2 separate regions of the Homo sapiens genome follow, and region 2 is linked to region 1. The links come from fine-mapping of genetic effects on gene expression. Tissue or cell type: monocytes after LPS. Region 1 holds a variant in brackets; the other region holds the start of a gene. All regions are shown on one strand. Distances are between the middles of the regions.

Region 1 (11,156 bases):
ATGGAACTAAGACTCTTTCCAGCAAGTTTTTTTTGAAGAGTTTATCTATCATAACCAAAAGTATTTCTCTTAGAAAGGCCTATAAAATCAATTCAGATATTTGAGCAATCCCTTGTTCCCCAACTGATTTATTCAACAAATCTTCATTAAATGTTCTCTACGTACCAGGCATGATCACAGATCACTGCAGCCTCAGACTCCTGGGCTTAAGCAATCCTTGAAATTATATTCTTTAAGAACATATAACAGATAATCCTTAGTTGTGGCAGGCGTGGGAGCATATGTACGTGTACACGTTAGGGGAGCAGGGGTTGTGAGTGGCTTTTCCAAGGAAGTATCATTTGAGCTAAAATCTAAAGGATGATGTTACTTAGAGTTGTATTCCAGGTTCAGCCTGTGCAAACGCCCAGGAAGGGAAATGAATTTGTGCCTTCAAGAAACAAAGAGATGCCCAGAGAGAAGAAAATAGCTAGAGATGGCACTAGAGATATGGGCAGGAACCTGGTCATTCAGGTCATATCGTGGATTACTCATAAAGGCAATAAAGAAGTCTTGAAGGGTTTTGAACTTGGAGGTTCAAAGTGAGCCAGCTGCAGAGTCGACAATGGATTATTGAAAGATTAGAACAAATGCAGTTAGGAGATTACGACAGCACTCAAGGTGCAAACTGGTGGTAACGTAGCTGGCATTAGAGTGATCACGATGGAGATGGAAATAAATGAACACATTCTAGAGATATTTTAGAAGTAAACTGTCAGGTGGTGGTAATGGAGTGGTACTGGTGACAAGCTAGGGGGAGATATTAAAGATGACTACCAGATTTCTGGCTTGTCGAACCAGATGGATGGGCCACCACTCACTGAGATAAGGAAGAAGTTCAAGGGTGGGACAAAAAAGCATTTGTTCAGTTTTGTACATGTTTAATTGAAGGTACTTTTGAAACATCAACAGATGACATGTCAAGTAGGTAGCTACAAATACAATGAATATATATTCTCCATATTAAAAAAACTTTTCATTTTCTCCCCAACCCTACTCTTCTTTTCAAGGTCTTTCCCATTTCGTCAATGGATCTACATTCTCTGTTATTCACTCCCAAACCAGGATATTATCCTTAATTCCTCCCTTTTTCACACCTCCATCCAAACCATTTACAGGTCTCACTCACCAGCCTACCTTCAAACTATGTCCTGAATCTAGCTTCTCACCACCTTCTTCACCAACACTGACAGAAGCCAGAACTATCTCTTGCCTTAACTTCTGCATATCCAACTCATCTCTAGGGTCTCATTCTCATCATCCCCTATAATCCAATCACATAGAAGCCAACATATTTTAAAAACATTAATCAAATCACATTCCTCCCTTCTAATCGCCTTGTCATGTCTTCTCATACTCTCATATCAAGTCTAAAGTACAGTATTTACCATGGCATCCCAGGTTCTAGGAGAACTAGCCTCTCCACTCCTTCCCAACCTTGTATCTCCAGCTCACTTCTCTTTATTCACAAGGACTCTCTTGCTACTCCATGGACATCTCAGGATAATTTCAGCCTGTGTTTTGTTGCCTTGGAACATTCCACCCATCAGTCATTCATGGTTTGGTCGTTCACTTCATTCAGGTTTCTGCTCAAGTCACCTCTTCAGAGGCTATATCTCAATAGTTATCAGGAAATGTCAATGAAGACCACAATGCAATGTTATACCCACCAGACTGGCAAAAATTAAGATGTTTTATAATACCACGTGCTGATAAAAAGTGGGTCTGCTGGAGCTCTTAATCACTTATGAGTGGGAATGTAAACTGGTGATGCTCCTTCGGAAAACAATGCAGTCGTATCATGTGAACTTGAACACTGACATACCCAATAACCATGCAATTCCACTCCCAGCAATAGGCCATGGAGAAACTCCTGTATATGTGTGTTAATAGGAACACATGAAAATGTTCAGCAACATTGTTCAAATAGCAGAAAGCTGGAAACAATCCAAATATCCACCAACAGGGCAATGAATCAATTGATTCTGCATACTCACCCAACAACACATAATTCAGCTTTTAAAATGAATGAACTACAGCTACATGCAACAATGTCAAACAGTTATACTATTTTTACAAATCAAAACAAACAAGCAAAATTAGCTGTATAGTACTTATGAGCATATTTTTAAGGGATAAATAACATTTTTTAAAAAAAGGCAAGAGAAAGAAAAAAATTAGGAAGTAGTTGCTTCAAAAGATAGGCAGGTATATGGGATGGGGCAGAGCACAGATAAGTGCGACAGAATTGGCAGGGCTTTTGTTTGTAGATTAGGTGGTAAGTCATACATATGACACTGTTATCCTTTATAATTTTCAAACATAGTTGTGTGTGTGTGTATGTGTATATATATATATATATATATATGTAATGTTAAGTTAAAACAATTAAAATATTGGCCAGGCACAGTGGCTTACACCTGTAATCCCAGCACTTTGGTAGGCCAAGGCAGGTGGATCATTAATATACAAATATATATTAAATGTTAAGTTAAAACGATTAAAATATTGGCTAGGCATGGTGGCTCACACCTGTAATCACAGCACCTTGGGAGGCCAAGGCAGGTGGATCACTTGAGCCCAGGAGTTCCAGATCAGCCTGGGCAACATGGCGAAACCCTGTCTCTACAAAAAATACAGAAAGTAGCCAGGCATAGTGGTGTGTGCCTGTAGTCCCAGCTTCCAGTCCCAGGAGACTGAGGTGGGAGAATCACTCCAATCCGTGAGGCGGAGGTTGCAGTGAGCTGAGATTACACCACTGCACTCCAGCCTGCACCACAGAGCAAGATCCTGTCTCTAAAAACCAACTAAACAAACAAAAACACAAAAAACACCCCTCCCCAAAAAAACCAAAATACGAAATAACTAACATACCTCTTCTCTGAACTTCATTTGTCTTTATAGCACACGTCACTCCCCAAAGAATATATACATACACACTGACTCACACTCATGCACTCATTTCCTTGTTTATTTTAAGTCTCTCCCATTAGAATGCAAACTCCCTAACTGTGGAGTCTTTGACATTCTTGTTCACCACAGTATTTCCAGGCCTAGAAGAGTACTCGGCATATACAATAAATATTTATGGAATAAATGAATAAATGGATGAACAAATGGCCTAGATAGTGCAAACAAAGCAATAGAGCACTGGCTGGTGCAACGGCTCACGCCTGTAATCCCAGCACTTTAGGAGACCGAGGTAGGCAGATTGCTTGAGCCCAGGGATTCGAGACCAGCTGGGGCAACATGGTAAAACTTCATCTCTACAAAAAATACACAAATTAACTGGGCATGGTGGCACATGACTGTAGTTCCAGCTACTCAGGAGACTGATGTGGGAGGGTCACTTGAGCCTGGGAGGCAGAGGCTGCAGTGAACCATGACTGCACTACTGCACTCCAACCTGGGTGACAGAGTGAGGCTTGTCTTAAAAAAAGAGAGAAAGCAATAGAGCATAAAAGGCTTAGTTCATGAACCCTGAAGTCAGACACTTCCAGGTTCAAATCAAGGCTCTCATTAGTCTTCTTAGCTGGGTGACCTTGAATGAGTTGCTTAACTTCACTGGGTTTCCGTTTTCTCATCTCTAAAACAGGGTAATGGGGGGAGGAGGGGTTGTGATGATTAAAAAAAGAATTTAGCACTTTGTCCAGCACAATATTATTCTTGCACAACGACAGTGTAATTTCCTCATAAAAAGCGGCTTTTTATTGCTCAAGGACATAGCTTTGAGCAATCTGCATTCTTTACGCAGTTTTACTATGACTGATTTTGTCCACACCCAATTTTAAAATGTGAACCAATTGGGCATCCTATAGTTGTTGCTACAGTTTGCTCAGACTAAGGCCATGTGCTAGGGAAATCTTGTAGCCACCAAACTTCCAGTGAGTATGGCACAATATAATCTTGCATTTGTGCTAGCCACTAGCATAGGAAATCAGCAAGACGAGAATAGCAAAAATAACAGCCATTTATTCACGGTTTTCTGTAGGATAAACAACACAGACACATCATCCCATGAACTTCTCACAGCTAGCGTGGGAAATTGGTGTGTACAAGAATTACAGAAAGCAGGGTGGGAAATTGGTGTGTACAAGAATTACAGAAAGCAGGTTCATTATAAACTGTTTTCAAATTTGGGCCTAAGCAGGTTCTGAAATAGAGACCATATTCAAATAGTAATTAGAAATTCTTAAGAGTAGATTTGCACTATCAGCTATAATATATCCTTTTAAAACAAAACAGAAAGCAAGCTCTTTCACATCCTAGATGATGACTTATTTTATAGTAGTAAAACCCAGGGCCTTCGCTGCTGTGAAGCCCATGCAGTCCCTTCCAAAAATTATGGTAGCAAATTCAAAAGGAGCAACTGCGCAGTGCTGTTGACTCACATTGCTCCCAACACACTCACAATAAAAATGAACTTTTCAGTGAACTGACCTATATTTTCCACCCTGGACTCTAGCCAAGACCCAGGCATCCATACCTCTAATGGACCATACTGTCTTAGAGAGCCCTAGGTCTTTCTGGGAGTCTTTTCCAGTTCTGCTCAGGCTCCAGGTCCAAAGGACAGCCCAGGGGTTCCGACGACTCAGGAGAATCCCAGATGAATAATAATTACTCATCATAACAATAATAACGCTTTATACGGTGTTTACTATGTATCAGGCAGTATTTATTATTAGTGTTGTACATATATTTGCTCATTTAATCTGCATAACTGCCATTAAATAGCATATCCCATATGTTATATCCCATGGGGTAGATATAAAGCTTGCAATATGACTAAATCTCACAAGTGAGATTCCTTAAAGTGAACACATGAAATCTATATGCAATCTGACCTTGCTGAGCAAGGTGAGACCACAGCAGAAATCAGCAGCCCATGCCAAATGATCCTTGGTGGTACTGGAAAATGATCTGGCCTCGTGGTTTTGATCAAATGGCACACTCTCCTCTCAGATCCAAACCACAACTTCCCCAAAATTAATCAAGGAGAAATAAATGGATAGAGGGTGGAGCAGAAGAGTACTTAATTTTTGTCACATTTCACACCCTAACTACTTCTCATTAAGTCTACTGGCCTGCATGCGATTCCCAGACCTTTCTTAAATCTCATGACTTTTATATCATCCTAGGCACCTTATGCCCCTTCTCAGCTTTCAGCATAGTCACAACTTCCTCTGGAATTTCTTCCTGATTCAAATGTTCCC[CGTCATTTCCCT/T]CCAGCCCCTCTATGCTTAGAACACTCTGCACACATTTCCTACAGTATGTAATTACTGCTTTCAGTTTTAGTTATTTTGTCCATCTCCCCTTTAAACTTTTAGCATCTCAAGACCACGGATGACATTTGTTTTCCCAGCGTCTGGTATAGAGCTGGCTGAGCTGCTGCAGACAAGTAATAAATGTTTACTAACTGAATGAACTAAGGAAATCATGCTCCTCAAAGATGGCACACAGTTTCTCATCACCCACCTAAAGGTGTCTCAAACTGGTGGGGATCTGCCTGATTTGTAATGAAGGAATTATAAAACAACCTTTCAGGCTGGGCATGGTGGCTCATGCCTGTAATCCCAGCACTTTGGGAGGTCAAGGTGGGCAGATCCCTAGAGCTCAGGAATTTGAGACCAGCCTGGGCAACATGGTGAAACCTCATTTCTAGAAAAATCAGGCAGGCATGGTGGCACATGCCTTGTGGTCCCAGCTACTCGAGAGGGTGAGGTGGGAGGATCGCTCTAGCCTGGGAGGCAGAGGTTGCAATGAGCCATGATCACACCACTGCACTCCAGCCTGAGTGACAGAGTGAGACCCCATCTCAAAAAAAAAAAAAAAAAAGAAAAGAAAAGAAAAGACACCATTTCTGAGCATTTTGCTTCCAAGCCCTAGAATTTAAACTTGCCTCTTTTTCAGTAAAACAATAACCAATACTACCACCTATGACCAAGGCTTCTATTTCATCCTTGAGACTTCTCACTTCATTAATATCCAAGTTTCTGAATAGCTTTTGAAGGTTAGTGAAAGGCTGCTCAAAACGTTTTGAGCTGAGTTTCTGTTCTGAGAGTTACTTTTTCTCTTCAGGGCAAATCACATTTGGTTTTCCTTTATCTTTCTAATAAATGCTGTTTGAAAGGTTGGAGGCATTGAAGGTGAAGAGAGAAAGACATATCTAGAAGTTGTTAATCAATAAGGAATTTCTCTGGACGCCTGTGTGACCTCAGCGTTTTTCACATTTCCACAGGTCTCCTTGGAGATGGTTGCTATGATCACTCAGTGTCTCCAGCTAAAAATCTTCAAAATGTGGATCACTGCTTTTATTCTCTTTTGTCTCCTCTTTATTAGCTGTTTTCCCCTCACACATATTTTATTTCTCTATGAATGCAATCTGCTCATAATTTTTTATCAAATTATATTCCATACAAATAGAATGCCCCCATTCTTTTGGTTCCTCTGGAAATGCTTTTATTTGGATTATAACATTTGGCAGTCCATTAGAAATACTATTTATACTTTTATGTTTCCTGGTTCCCTGAAAGTAAATTATTCATATGGCAGTTAGCCCTGCCTACTTCTGTTTCAAAAAACACTAATCTACACTGGAAGTAACTAAACATTGACAATAAAAATGTCCAACCTGATTGATGCTCTTCATGTTGCTTATTTAACAAGCCCTTAGCATGGAATATCTCCAGATTAATTTTTAAATTTATGCAACTTTTATATTTCCCCTCTTTACTAAAGTTAAAGCAAATATACTTTTATTTGACTCTACTTTCATTATTCACATTTCAAATATCTAAATTATTTCATGATGGAGGTTTCTTACAAAAATATATAAGAAGAAAAAGAACTTGAAATGCTGAGTAGATTAAAACAAAATTTAAGTATCAATTGTCCAATAAGCAGAGAAAGCTAAAATACAATATTCAAAAACAATCTTAACATCCTTCCACAGCAAGGTTAGATGCTTTGTTGAAATATATAATTCAAATGTAAATTACAAAATAGAGCTCTTCTGGGATTTTTCAAAGTCCTAATTACGTAGGTCAGCTGAATAGGGAACATATTTAGAAAAAAAAAAGTACGGAAAAAAATATAGTAAATGAATCAGAGGGAATGGTTTTTAGACAGAAACTTGTAGGGTTTTCCGTTAGCTGCCTTATTTTTGGAAGAGAGGACCAGCTCAGAAACAAACACCAAAATTCAAACCTGCAAAGAAAGGCAAACCTGTGCAGCAGAATTACAGTAACGTAAATCAGTGGCAACGTGATACAAGGACTTTTTATTGGTACAAGTAATTCATACAAAAATGCAAATCCCATTTTGTTCACACGGAAAAAGATTATTTTATTATCTTCATAAAAAGATAATTCTTGACAATATTAAATTGTAGTAGTAGATATAGGGAGACATCAGAAATTAATTCTTCTAGATCTATTTTACACCCATAAGCTGTGAATTTATGAATCAAGCCATAATCAGGTCACTAAAAACAAAAAGGAACAGATAAGCAGCTAGAATCCATTCATTTGTTCATTCAATCAATGACACTTACTGAGCATTGATTTTATACCAAGCACTGTGGTTGGAATTTGGAAGGGAAAAGTGATTAAGAGCCGGGTTCAACTATCCTTAAGGTTTTGTGGGAAAAACAGAACCATAAACCGTTAATTACAGTATGATAATGATAAGTACAATGACTGAGGGATAAAACACAGTAGAATTCAGTCTTTAAAAAGGGACAAGTGATAGGTATGAAAATGGTTTTATGAGAGTCACAGTGTCATTGTTCTGAACAACAAATTCATTACTGTTGATACAAAAATACTGTTCATACAAGAGGGACTTTGCCCTTAGGTACTTACAGCCTAGCACAGAGGACAGATAAGAAAAAATAATAAATAGTGCTTCCCAAACTATCTGTAATAAAGGACCAGTTTTTTCAAATGTAAATCCTTCACGATGGATACTTTCATAAAAATTTGTTTAAAACTAGAAAAAAAAATAAAAATTAAGATATAAAAATGCAATCTCCAATTTTTATTATTAGATTCCAGAGTCATAAAATTACTTTGTTAAATTGCTATACAAGGTCTAAATGCTTACCTTCAATTTTTGTGCCTATTTTATGGACGACGGGTAACACACATTGTGGTCCATGTACAAATATTGCAATAAAATATTAGAGATGCTAATATAAAAGTATATATGCTGCTGTCACATAGGAGGAAGTGATCCATTAACAGGGAGAGAGATGAAGTTCATCTAAGAAAAAGCTTTGTAAAAGACTTGACCCTTGAACTGTGTCTTTATATACATATGTGTGTATATATATAATACACACATATATGTATATATATATACACATATATGTGTATTTATATATATATATCCATATATATATATATATATATATGTGGACACAGTGACACATGCCTATAATCCCAGCACCTTGGGAGGCCAAGGTGGGAGGATCGCTTGAGCCAAGAGTTCAAGACCAGCCTGGGCAATATGTGAAACCCTGTTTCTACAAAAAATACAAAAATTAGCTAGGCATGGTTATGAGCACCTATAGTCCCAGCTACCCAGGAGGCTGAGGTGGGAGGATCACCTGGGCCAATGTGGGCAAGAGTGAGACCCTGTCTCAAAAAAAAAAAAAAAAAAAAAAAAAAAAAAGAAGGATTTACCAGAAAATTGGTTGCACTGAGAGGCATAAAGAACAGCATTCCAGGTAGGAGGAATAAAACATGGGAGGTAGGAAAAGCAAGAATTTCTATGTCATTGCATAATGAGGGAGAAGAAGAGGCAGATCGAGGAGGGCCTTATAAGCTAAACACAAGCCTTATGTGTGGAATAGCACCCTATTTGATGAAATTTCAAAATGAGGACTAAGGAAAGCACTTGACTCCTCTACTGGGTATTTAAAATGTTGTTGTAAGCAACCCCAGTGATACTCACAAGTGAATTTAATCCTTCTAGGTGGAGCTTATTAATATTATCTAAACTTCCTCTTTCTTTCCAGCTAGTGTTGCAGGCCATGAACCCTCGTCCTAGTGTTGCAGGGCTGAACTACCTCTAAAATGTTGGTCAAAAATCCCTACCATGTAAAACTAGAGTTTTCAGATGGGAAACAACAGCGTTTATATTTCTCTTTTTTAAAAAAATTTTGTTTTCATCTTGCTATCTGTCCCAGCAGAATGGCAGAGCAACAAACAGTGTGTACTCTATCCAGTGCTGATTTTTTTTTTCTTTCTTTTAAAATGGAGTCTTGTTCCATCACCCAGGCTGGAGTGCAGTGGCTTAATCATAGCTCACTGCAGCCTCAAACTTCTGGGCTCAAGCCATCCTCCCACCTCAGCCTCCCAAGTAGCTGGGGTTACAGGCTCATGCCACCACGCCTGGGTAATTTTTTATTTTTAATATTTTTAGAGATGGGGGTCTCGCTTTGCTGCCCAGGCTTATCTGGAACTCCTAGCCTCAAGTGATTCTCTCGCCTTGGCTGCTCAAAGTGCTGGGATTACAGGTCTGAGCCACGGTGCCCAGCCTAGTGCTGACTTTTACATGCTCCGTGACATTGAATAAATTACCCTTTCAGTTTCCTCAACTCTGAAATAGGGATAGTGTCAGTACCTACCTCACAGGGCTTTTGTACTGTGAGGATTAAATGAGTTAATACAAGTAAAACACTCAGAACAGTGCCTGGCAAACAGTAGATGATCAATAAGTGTCCCTGAGTTATTAGTATCATTAAAAATAAAAGGAAATGGACACAGATTGGTGTATAATGTCCCCCTTCTCTTCTTCCCCAGTGCCATTCATCTAAGTATGCAAAAGTGAGACCAAGTACACTCCCTAATTTCTAACTCTGCACATCCTCCACTATTTCTCCAACATCATTTTAACCTAAAGATGTACCACAGGTGGAGAAAATAGAGCTAATTATAGGCCTCTGGAGTAAAATGACTAAGGAAAATCAATGGAGAAGAGCTTATTTTCTGTCCTAGTCCCACCTTAGTTATCCCTAAAATTAGAAGCCAGTAGTTTTGGGTTATTGAAAGACACTTCCTCTGTGAGGGGAAACCGGAATGAGACAAGACTGTTTAGGTAAGCTTTATTTAAAACATTCAGCACCTCTTAGCAATGTAATCGGGGTGATGCTTAAATATTTTAAAGTCTGAGATGGTTGTCAAGAGTTCACTGAGCATTTGACAACAACTGGGAACTACAGAATTAGCAACGTGGTGCCACTTCACACAGAAGACTTAGCAAGGGGATACAGTAATTCTGGGTCAGGAATGTTAAGAGTTTATCTTAATTTAGCAGCTGTAGTGCTGCAGTAGCCAAATCTAGCGAAGTCTTTTCAGGGAGATCAGCTAAGGGCACAGCCGTCTAGACAAAACACCACCACAACTACATGGATGGGTGCAGAGATAGATGCAAGGTTGACTAAGATGTTGCCAGCACATTAGCAGAAACTTGAAGAAATCCAGAGGCAAGAGTTTAAAAACACTGTGCTGGGTGACACCTTAAAGTTATTGAGGTGTTTTCTTTTCTTTTTTTTTTTTTTTTTTTGAGACAGAGTCTCACTCTGTCGCCCAGGCTGGAGTGCAGTGGTGCCATCTCGGCTCACTGCAAGCTCCGCCTCCTGGGTTCACGCCATTCTCCTGCCTCAGCCTCCTGAGTAGCTGGGACTACACGTGCCTGCCACCACGCCTGGCTAATTTTTTGTGTTTTTAGTAGAGATGGGGTTTCACCGTTTTAGCCAGGATGATCTCGATCTCCTGACCTCGTGATCCACCAGCCTCGGCCTCCCAAAGTGCTGGGATTACAGGCATGAGCCACCGCACCTGGCCAAAGTGTTTTCTTTTTTTATATATACTTTGGATTTGTTGTCAAGTGTATTGTTTCTGAGACTATTCCTTTCTCCTCTATTCTCAAAACATGTCCACATCTCTACTCTAGAGTTGTCAGGACAAATGGAGGATCTCTTCCACTCTGGGGTAGGCCCTTTTAAGATCAGACTGGGATGACCTCTCCACTGTTCCCATCTCCCAAAAGGCACTGTCCCTTAAAGACAACATATTATATTGGTTTTACCATCACCAGTAGTGAATATAAAA
Region 2 (11,156 bases), 71 kb after region 1:
TGTTCACCCACTGCACTGCAGCCTGGGTGACAAAGCAAGATCCTGTCTTGAAGAAAAAAAAAAAAAAATTGGCCAATTTACAAAGACTCTAAAACCTAGAACAGACTTGAAGCTGTCTGGCTCCTAAACTGGTCAACATAGCACAGGAGTAAACAAACCAATATAGATTGTCAGAGCTGAGATTTACTACCCTGTATTATAATCCAGCCCTCATGTGTTTCAGAAGGTCATGCTTTGCTCAAAATTTTCTCCAAAACTATCCCTTAATATATTCTGAAGTTCATGAAACTAACCGGGTTTTCAGGGCACTGTAAAGGCCTTGTTGCAGTAGCGCAATCAGCTTCACCAAAACATCAGGCAAATCATATTTGTACATATTAACCATGTTGTTTTTCTAGACCTTAAAGGCCACCCTGTGAAGCTGCTGCCTGGGTATTGTGGTCTCTTAAAATGGTCCTGGTGAAAAAAACAACTTGGTTAGAGTTAATCAATGTAATTAACTCCTGTTCACAGACGACGGTTTCCTTGCTCTCTTAGTTCCAACAATGACTCCTTCAATGAATGTAAAGTCTCAATAGGTAACTGTTCTATCTCCTATTTAGATATCTACTATGTGAGGAATCTACAAGTGAATTATCGCTACTGAAAAGAAGATAACCTGGGTTCTGGTCCCAGGTACGTCTTAATTGTGCAACTCTGTCATTAAGCCTCCCTGCATCATGTAATGAGTGGGTTGGAGAAAAAATGTTAAAAGTCCCTCCCAGCTATAAAGTTTTAATTCATAACTTAAATTGCTGTCACTTCCTATTCTATGTTGAAGAAAGAATGTAAGATGCAGACACAGGTTCCATATTGCTATGGCATGATGCAGGGCCATACCAAATCAAATTGGCATTTCCTCATGTTCCATCTGCTACTAAAATGTATTATTTGTATGTCAGGCTGCAGAGTGGTCAAAGAACAACAGATTTTCTTGGCACTCCCTGTACATATTCCATGTAGATAAATATGGTGCTATCTCTAGGAAAATACTACAAATAATAACTGTCAATTCTTAGCAACTAGCAACATGCATTATTAAAAACAAACACAGCCTCTCATCTATAAGTTCCACTTCATAAAACATGTCTTTATGAGTCTTTATTGTTCCCATATGTGTAGCTCCACAATATTTTTGCTGCAGAATACAAGAATTACATAGATCACTAAAGTCCACAGATAATTCAAAACCTTCTGCTAGCCAATTATTCAATCCCTTCCACTGCTACGCTATTTGCCAGAGATGCTAACAAATAGCATAGTCAACTGGTTTGGGTTTCATACACTTTTCCAGACATGCTTGCTTTCTAATGGCCTATTCAAACAAGAGATTTATTTCTCTTAATTCTAAGTCTTTGAGAATTTGACCAAGAGGCATGAAATGTTCAATTCATTCTTTAAAACTGTTGCCTGGGGTCCCCTTTTGTCCCCCATTTAAACCTATCCACTGTTTAACCACTTGTATCATTCCTGATTCTTCTGTCTTACAATTCTGTGCTACATTTCTCTGCATGTGGTTTTGATTACTGTTTTTTCTGTATTCTTTATTGTATTCTATTTTAATTCTCCAAAAACTCAATTTATACACTGTCCATGAACTTATGAAAAAAAAGTGAAAGCAAAAATGATTCTCCACAAAACAGAGCAGCCAACTGAAAACTTTAAAAGCTTGAAAATTTTATGAGGCAATTAATATGAACTGATATGACATCTTCAATTAGATTCAAAGACACTTAGGATTACAAAAATTAGTCAGGCATGGTGGTGCACGCTTGTATTTCCAGCTACTCAGGAGGCTGAGGCATGAGAATCACTTGAAACCGGAAGGCAGAGGCTTCAGAGAGCAGAGATCGTGTCACTGCACTCCAGCTTGGGTGACAGAGTGAGACTCTGTCTCAAAAAGAAAAAAAAAAGACACTTAAGATGAAGAGAATTCCAACTCCTTATCTTATAGATAAGAAAACCGAAACCCAGAGAAAGGCTAAGTGACTTGCCCAAAATGATACACACAACTAGATACATCTATGATCTTATACATAAAATTACGAATTATCACCAGGAATGGTTCTTTTCACAGTTAAGAATAGCCCCATGAAGTCTGTTCCCAAAACCTGTGCAGGCAGCCACAGTGGCAAAATTCCATATCTGGGCCGGGTGCAGTGGCTCATGCCTGTAATCCCAGCACTTTGGGAGGTGGAGGCAGAGGCAGGTGGATCACCTGAGGTCAGGAGTTCGAGACCAGCCTGGCCAACATGTCGAAACCCCATCTCTACTAAAAATACAAAAATTAACTGGGCGTGGTGGTGCGTGTATATAATTCCAACTACTCCAGAGGCTGAGGCAGGAGAATCACTTGAACCCAGGAGGTGGAGGTTGCACTGAGCCGAGACCACGCCACTGCACTCTGGCCTGGGCAGCAGACCGATACTCCTTTTATATATATATATATATAAAATAAAAATTAAAGAATAAAAAAATTCCATATCTGAAGTCATTCCTTTAGGTCAAAACATTATCTCAAAAATTCTGAGATAAATAAAGTTGTTATTAGGGAAAATGGGAGAGAGTAACAGGGGAAAATATTCTAGAGTGTTAGGTTCTAAGTTAGAAGGTAGAAAAAAAAATACATATAATCAAAATGACTCTTGAAATCACCCACACACCTAAGTCACCTATAGAGTCCAATATGTATGTTTATTCATTGTGTTTTTCTTGAGACAGAGTCTCACTCTGTCAGCCAGGCTGGAGTGCAGTGGCGCAATTTCAGCTCACTGCAACTTCTGCCTCCCGGGTTCAAGCAATTCTCCTGACTCAGCCTCCAGGGTAGCTGGGACTACAGGCATGCACCACCATGTCCGGCTAATTTTTGTATTTTTAGTAGGGACAGGGTTTCACCATGTTGGCCAGGCTGGTCTCGGCCTCAAGTGATCCGCCCACCTCGGTCTCCCAAAGTGCTGGGATTACAGGCGTGAGCCACCGTGCCTGGCCTAGACTTATGTCTTAATGAGTCCCACACAGTCAGGTTTTCCTTTAGCAATAGAACAGAATTTTTTTTTATCATCAGATAAAGTTGCTGACTGTAATTTAAAAAGTAGTTTGTTCCAAATACATATACCTTTATTTATTTATTTATTTATTAGACAGAGTCTCACTCTGTCACCCAGACTGGAGTGCAGTGATGTGATTTCGGCTCACTGTAACCTCTGCCTCCTGGGTTCAAGTGGAACCACAGGCACACTGGGACCACAGGTGTGTGCCACCACACCTAGCTAATTTTTGTATTTTTTGGTAAAGATGTGGTTTCTCTACCAAAATGTTGGCCAGGCTGGTCTTGAACCCCTAACCCCAAGTGATCCGCCTGCCTCAGCCTCCTGAAATGCGGAGATTACAGGCATGCACCACTGCACCTGATCCCAAAACACATACCTGTAAATAACAGACTAGCACTCTGCGAGGGTACAGAAAAACCAGTCTTGTCTCCCATGCTGTCCTTACTAAGGGGCCTACTCTCCCTGCATTGGACAGCTGGCCTCATGTACTATTTATCTGTTATTTGTCTCCCACTCTCTTCTTGATTTGCCTAGAAGTACCAGGTGAATTTGTGCCATTTAATGCGTATATGATCTGACTCCATGATATTCCCTTATTCCCATGTTTGTGTATGGATGTAGTGATCTAGGTTAGATACTGGATGTGTAGGTACTGCAGGAGGAGGTAAAGCCTGGACTCAGGGCAGGGCAGGTGCAGTGAAGACTCCTAAAGCAGCCTAGGGACTCGTGGGTGTGTGGAAGGAAGAAGTGTTGAAGGAAATAGGGAGAAGGTCATTCTCTGTGGGACAGACTTAGCTCCAAATGTGATTTTCACCATGTTCATGATTTTTCTTCCGTTTGAATTTGATAGACACATTGCAACACATCCCATTTCGCTGATTTTCAAATAAGGACTTGATCACTGGCAAGTGACCTTACAGCAAACATAAAGAAATCAACATTTGGAAGTGCATTTGCCAATTAGTGCTCTAGGCGGCAGAAAAACCAGACCGCCACCCCTTGAAGACCTGCCACAAAGAGCCATGTGGAAAAACTGCACAGAGAAATGGTGGTTGTGAACAAGAGTACTGCCCTGGAATGAAAGGTTTTAGGCTATGTTGGACTCACTGAAAAAAGAAAGGTTAGTCTCATTAGAAAGTTTACCTGGCTCTAAGAAAATAATTACTTATCTGCTAACACAACTTCCATAGCAATGAAACAAGTTCCTGTAAGTATAAATTATCACAATTCCAAGCAGACAAAAATCTGTGTCTCCTGAACACATTATAGGGGTCAGCCTATAGATAACTCCATTATAGGGGTCCTCCTAAAGATAACCTAAGTTATCTTGCATATTGTGTCTGCAGTGTCCACAATGAGTTGGTCTGTATTCACACTGGATGATACAGGATTTCTCCACCAGGTCCTCTCACAGGACTCCAGGCATTTTTACAACTTGACCACACAAAAGAACACTCAGGCTGCTCCTCCCTTGCTCAAGGGAAGTACAGTAATGCCTCTCTCCGTAGCCCTTTCATAAGACTGTGCATAGATAAACACAGGTGTATACATAGCAATCTTTATGAACTTTGCATTGAATGTGTCAAAGAACAGTGGCGGTCCCAACATTCCATCCATTGTCTCAATCAGGAAAGCTACTCCTGAGACCTCAGGAAAGAGGAGGAAAAAATTCAAGTAACACATATGTTTACGAAACACTTCAGTAACAAAACAAAATACTTGTATTGGAGAGAAAATATATATATTTTTAATCACAAGGCATAGAAAGTAAAAATAATCAGCCTTAATTAGGTTTCCTTCATTAGTTGACAATGTAAATGGACTGAAACTACTACTCAAATATTCAAACCTTCATTTTACATGCAAGTGGCTTCCAGAAAATGATAAAGCAATATTCCCATGTGAGTGTGAAAGATGGCAATGAATTCTGGCCCATTATAAAGGAAGAGTCAGATTCCACTAGTCACTGCTTCGTTTAACTGCCAGGCTTTTAGGGAGCTATTTAATAAAAGGGGTCTCGCCCTAATAAATTGTGAGCGGTGTAAATAGGTGAGTGGTGTAAATATCTGAAATAGCCTGCACTCAATGAGGCTGTAGACCGCTTGGGGTTCACAGACTTTACAAAAATCATTCCGTAAAAAAATTACGTAGTGACAATCCTACCATTTAAAAAGAATAATGATGGTGATAATAATAGCTGGACAGGATCCTCCACTGCTGCCTGCTTCCCACATAAGTTGCCCAGCTGAAGGTGGTTAAGTTAAAGCCAGTTCTCTCCCCATTAGAGATGCGGGCTGGCAGCTGGCGGGGGAAGTCACCCAGTTTCCAGCTCCCCGTGGGTTTGACGGGACTGGGATTGCAACTGGGAACTAACTGGCTTGTAGGAAGCCCAGGTGGCTCAGACAGGGCTCGAGCTGTCCCCTCACCACCTTCCTCCCACGCAGACACCAAGTTAGATACGCAACTCCACGAGCACAATGACAAGAAGGCACACAAAAGGAGCAAGGCAGCCGCTCCCATCCTTACCTTTGACTTGACTTTCATACTCGGCTATGATCTCTTTGTCCTTCTTGAATCGGCTCGGGGTGGACATTATCCAGCTGTTCCGGGTTTGCTTTCAATGGGCAAGTTTTGTTCAGTGGTCACAACCCGTTCTCCTTGGAGAGGCAGAGTTGTACTCCCACACGCAGGCAATCCAGAGGCAGCGCCGACCCGAGGGAAGGGAGGAGGGAGAGGAGAAGTAGGAGGAGGAGGGGAAAAAGAGCGAGTAGAGAGGACTAGATTAGCCCGGGCGCTGGCACCATACTCTCGAAATTGAGCTCCGTCGGTAATCCCAGGGGATCCCCGGGGGAGAGGCCGGACGCGCAGGCAAACTCCAGCCAGCGAGTGGCGGGGGACGTCTCCCTGCCCACCTCGCCGGGAGCCCGGCCACTTCCTCTACGGCCGCTGGGCGGGCGCGGGGCTCGCGCCGGCGCTCCGCACCATTGTTCGAGACCCGCACCGGGCGCCCGGGACAGGGCCAGCGGCGGAGGGCAGGCGCTGGGAACGCGCCCAGCTCGGGCGCCACAACCCTCCCTTCCTGCCTCCAGCTGTCGGCTCCGGCGCTCAAGGGTCCCGCCCGGGCTGGGGATGCTGCTGCCACGGCCGCCGCTCCTCTGCCCGCAGACACTGCCGCTACAGCTCGGCAGGCGAAAGGAATCGCAGTCCTGACGCGAGTCCCCGCTGCTGCTGAGAGGGTGAAGGCGGCGACGCTCAGACGCGCCCTGGGCACAGCCCCGGCGGAGTTTAGGTCTCCAGAGCCGGCGCCGCGAGGGGCCTCTGCCTCCCTGGCCGCGGTGCGCCGAGGCTGCCTTTCTCTGCGTCCCCCTTTCCGCTGCTGCCCCCAGGAGGCCGCTAGTGACAGGCACACTCGCACACGCACGCGGGAGCCGCGCCCCCGGCGGCAGCAAAGTTGAGGGTGCGCACACGGCTCGCGCCTCGCGGGCGCCCGGCTAGCGATCTGCGGGCGGTGGCTCCTCGGGGCTCCGCCAGGCGGGGCCAGGCTCGCGGGAGCGGACCGCGCTCCGGCCTGTGCCCTTCTCCGTCCAAGCTCCCGCCCCTGCTCCGCTAGGAAACGCCTGGCTGGTCCGGGAAGATGGATGCCTCTTGTGGCCAACCGCAGCCCGGCCCCGCGCGCCGAGCCCAGGAGGCCGTGGGCGGCGCCCCCGGCACCTCCCTCCGCCGAGGCCCCGCACCTCCCTCCGCCGAAGCCCCGCTCCACCGCTAGCCGAGGTCGCGGCTCCGGCGGCAGGAAAACCCCTTCCTGACCTGAGGGACCGCCTTCTGGCTCTGGCGGGGGCTCTGGTGGGGCTTTTGCCAGAATCTAATGGGGAAGTCCAGAGTTGGATGTATCCATGACACAAAGGGATGTTACTCCGAGACGCTGGACCCCAATAGAAAAACTGAACACTGAATTGTGAATGACCTGGCTGTTAATCCAAAGAGCGCGAAGCTCTTCAATCGAGGCGGAGAAAAACACCCACCTTGAACACCATATCCTCTATTCCTACAGTAGATAGGGAAGCTAGGATGGTAGGAAAGCGATGGTATGGAAACACGTCACACTTAACGGCGTTGTTAGCTTATTTATTTACTAAACTCCAGATTTTATTCCAATTTTACCAATTTTTTCGACTAGTGTCATTTTTTCTGTTCCAAGATCCAACACAGGACACTACATTGCACTTAGTACTTTTACGGTTGTTTTTGTTTTTGTTTTTTGATTTTGTTTTTTGGGGGTTTTTTTTGAGACGGGGTCTCACTCTCGCCCAGGCTGGAGTGCAGGGGCACGAGCTCCGCTCACTGCAACCTCCGCCTCCCGGGTTCAAGTGATTCTCCTGGCTCAGCCTCCAGAGTAGGTGTGACTACAGGCGCCCGCCACCGTGCCTGGGTAATTTTTGTATCTTTAGTAGAAACAGGGTTTTGCCATGTTGGTCAGGCTGGTCTTGAACTCCTGACCTCAAGTGATCCGCTCACCTCGGCCTCCCAAAGTGGTAGGATTACAGGTGTGAGCCACGGCGCCCGGCCACGTTTTTAATAGATACCTTTTACAAGATCTATCGTGTCTAGTCTCTTTTTATTTTATTTGTTTGTTTGTTTTCATTTTAGTACAGACGGGGGTCTCCCTATGTTGTCCAGGCTGGTCTCAAACTCTAGTCTCTTTTTGAACAATATAACGAAGAATTTACCTTGCCATCTTTGCATGGTTCAGGTGTTGTGTTAAGTACTTTAAATCCATCCTTGCCAGCCTTTTAAATTTTTTTTTATTATTTTTACTTTTTTGTAGAGATGAAGCCTTGCTCTATGGCCCAGGCTGGTCTCAAACTCCTGGCCTCAAAAGATTCTGGCTGGGCACGGTGGTTTACACCAGTAATCCCAGCACTTTGGGAGGCCGAGGTGGGCAGATCACAAGGTCAAGAGTCCGAGACCAGCCTGGCCAACATGGTGAAACCCCATCTCTACTAAAAATATAAAACTTAGCCGGGCATGGTGGCATGTGCCTATAATCCCAGCTACTCAGGAGGCGGAGGCAGGAGAATCGCTTGAACCCAGGAGGTGGAGGTTGCAGTGAGCCAAGATTGCACCACTGCACTCCAGCCTGGGCGACAGAGGGAGACTCCTTCTCAAAAAAAAAAAAAAAAAAAAAAAAGAAAATCCTCCGACCTCAGCCTCCCAAAGCACTGGGATTACAAGCATCAGCCACCACACCTGGTTCTGTTAGCCTTTTTGACTCACACCACTTGAGATATTTACTGACTCCTTTCAAATCAATTCTCAAATATTATGGGCCTGATTTATCAAAATGATGTGTCCAAAGGTGTATCCCCTCAAGTGTTTTCCCCACAAGATCTAAAGAAAGTAGGGACTTTTAGACTTTGATCATTCTTTCATGTATCCAGTGATCGGCTCTCCAGTTCTTAACTCTGTGCCAAACACCACGCTAGGAACTAGGGATTCAAAGATTAAGACTGCCGGAAAGGATCATGCAGTCTATTACTGTATAAATAAATAATTACAAGCAGTACAATAATGCTGTAAGAGATAGAAATACTCCCAGTCTTGGGAGCACTGGGGATGGAAAAACAGACTGCATAAGAGGATTGGGTGTAAGAGTTCGCAGAGGAGTGGTTTTGAGCTGGATTTAAAGGATGAATAGTAAGTAGCTGGCAACTTTAGGGAGGAAAAGGGATGCATTCCAGGGAAAAGGAAGAGTGTTATACTCTAGAGGAATTGCAAATAGAGTGACAAGATATCTTCCACTAAGATACCAGATCTCTGCTAGATGGTGAAAAATAATGTAAAAAATTGTAATATATGTATATGCATGTGTCAGCTGATAGTATGTGGGTATGTGGACATTGTTAATTGCACTGCTTTTTTAAAATCTAATTTTAGCAAGTTTTTTTTACTTTATAGCAACAGAATATATGTAAAGAAAATATGCCAATTTTTTTTAAGTTTTTTTTTCAGTCTTTTTTTCATTTTACCACACAGGCAGTTATACTATGGCACCCCTGGCTGCCCTAATTTCACGTGGAGCTGTCTTATGTAAGAGTGTACGGTGAAGAGAAAGCAGAGGCTGGAAGGAAGGTCAGGGCCAGCTGGGAGAGTCCTCCTGTGCCATGCTAAGATCTTGGACACAGTTCTGCAGACAGCAGGGAGCCTTTTAAGTAGAGAAGTATCACGATCAGATTTGTGTTTTATAAAGATAACTGTTGGCAGTGTAGAAGGATGGGTTAGCCATAGAGAAAGAGAGACCAGGCAGGCAGCCTACTTAGGTGATAATCATAGTCACATCTAAATGGGATTCATATCCATGATGCTGTTGGGATTTGTTTCATATTTGCACCTGGGAAGCACAAGTTGACAGCAGAGATTGCAGCACCTAGAAATGAATTGTTGCCTGAGTCTAGACCTAAATCAGTGTGTTGCAAACAAGCCCCAGAGACAGGGTGCCCAGAGGTGAATCCTAAATCTGCTGTTTCCTAAGGGATCTGGTAAAAATTACTATTCTCTCTAGGCCTTAGTTTGTAAAATGGGTTACAAATTTTCCTTATCTGTAAAATTGGTTAATGCCTAAGTCCTGGGGATGTTATAAGCACTTACTGAGATAAACCCTTAAAAGTACTTGTAGGCCATGGTATACACCCAGTGAGTATTAGTTATCTTTACAATTATTATCTTAGTTTTACTCTTCCTAATAGAAAGCTATCTAAAAATCAGAGATAGGCTGGGCGTGGTGGCTCATGCCTGTAATCTAAACACTTTGGGAGGCTGAGGTGGGAGGATTGCTTGAGCCCAGGAGTACAAGACCAGCCTCATTTCTACAAAGAATAAATAAAGATCAGAGATAATGTTTCATCTTTAATTTTATTATGGTGTTCAATACACAGTCAATAAAATGTATTGAATATTAATGCCACCATTAGTAGGCCACCATTTTATTGTTGTTGAAGATGGGATATACCCACTAAGGTAAGAATTTTGCACACATTCTCAGAAGAACCCTACATGGCGGACACCATTGTCCTCATTTTACAGATGAGAATCTGGAGGCTCAGAAAATTCAGTAAATGTCTGGCCTGGCAGGGTCAGAATTCCAGTTCACATCTGCCTGTCTCCAAAGTGGGTACTCTTTCCAATTTTCCATTCCACTTCCTATGAACTTATGATTCCTTTAAACTTGTGAAGTGAGTTCAAATAAGTAAAATGTGTGTGACGGAGTCATGGGTTTCTATTGGTGGATCTCTTTTCTGATCCAACTGTTTAGTGTAATTAACAAGTCAATTAGTGTTTCCATTATTTTCTTTTAACTTTTTTTTTTTTTTTGACACAGAGTCTCACTTGCCCAGGTTGGAGTGCAGTGGCATGATCTCAGCTCACTGCAGCCTCCACCTCCTGGGTTCAAGTGATTCTCCTGCCTCAGCCTCCCGAGTAGCTGGGACTACAGGCACACACCACCACACCCGGCTAATTTTTGTATTTTTAGTAGAGATGGGATTTCACCATGTTGGCCAGGCTAGACTCGAACTCCTGGCCTCAGGTGATCCGCCCGTATAGGCCTCCCAAAGTGCTGGGATTACAGGCATGAACCACCACACCCAGCCAGTATTTCCATTATTTTCTTTTTTCAGATTTTCTTTATCTTTCCCATAGTTAAGAACCCATTTCAGTTTACAAAGTTGGGTATGGAGAATGCCTGTGATTTAAAATGCAGAAAGCCAGGGTGACCCAAGTTTGGGAGACAGGCAACCCTGGTTCTGGCTCTCACACCGCTTCTCTGTGACTTTGCTCCACCTTGTGGTAGCTCTTTTCTAGCTATAAAACAAGAAAGACTGCACTTGGCCCGGGAAAACCTGCCTCTCCCCTGCCACACTCCCATTCTTTAGGAACATGTGAGAAATCTGGAGTGCCTGATGGTTGGGACCACTGCTACGTACTAATCCACTCTGTTATCTAGCATGGTCCTTTTTAGACTGCCCCCAAATTTCCATATGTAGAAGTTAATTTACCACTTGACCATATGCC

Alleles and levels. Alleles are on the strand shown, and positions count from the first base shown. SD is a standard deviation of normalised expression in the study named.
For the expression in monocytes after LPS of the gene that starts at base 5,799 in region 2, allele T in region 1 goes with a lower level than allele CGTCATTTCCCT (large effect, 0.86 SD a copy in Quach 2016).

Evidence for each region. PIP is the estimated chance that this variant, and not a neighbour inherited with it, causes the effect.
Region 2: it holds the start of SRGAP1, and the variant in region 1 is fine-mapped to the expression of SRGAP1 in monocytes after LPS (Quach 2016, PIP 0.95). The same link has a PIP of 0.9 or more in monocytes after Pam3CSK4 and monocytes after R848.

The regions. Positions count from the first base shown.
Region 1 is chr12:63,910,751-63,921,906 of GRCh38, reverse strand. All of the region lies in intron 1 of SRGAP1 (SLIT-ROBO Rho GTPase activating protein 1), which reads right to left. Among named protein-coding and RNA genes, the nearest start is that of SRGAP1, 72 kb to the right of the region's middle. RefSeq lists an enhancer at 2,261-3,049. The variant CGTCATTTCCCT/T (reference allele first, on the strand shown) is at 5,253.
Region 2 is chr12:63,839,343-63,850,498 of GRCh38, reverse strand. It overlaps SRGAP1 (SLIT-ROBO Rho GTPase activating protein 1), which reads right to left and starts at 5,799. Exons shown (of 22, transcript NM_020762.4): 1 at 5,616-5,799. The coding sequence starts at 5,682. RefSeq lists silencers at 5,957-6,216, 6,327-6,386, 6,447-6,866 and enhancers at 5,793-6,292, 6,293-6,794.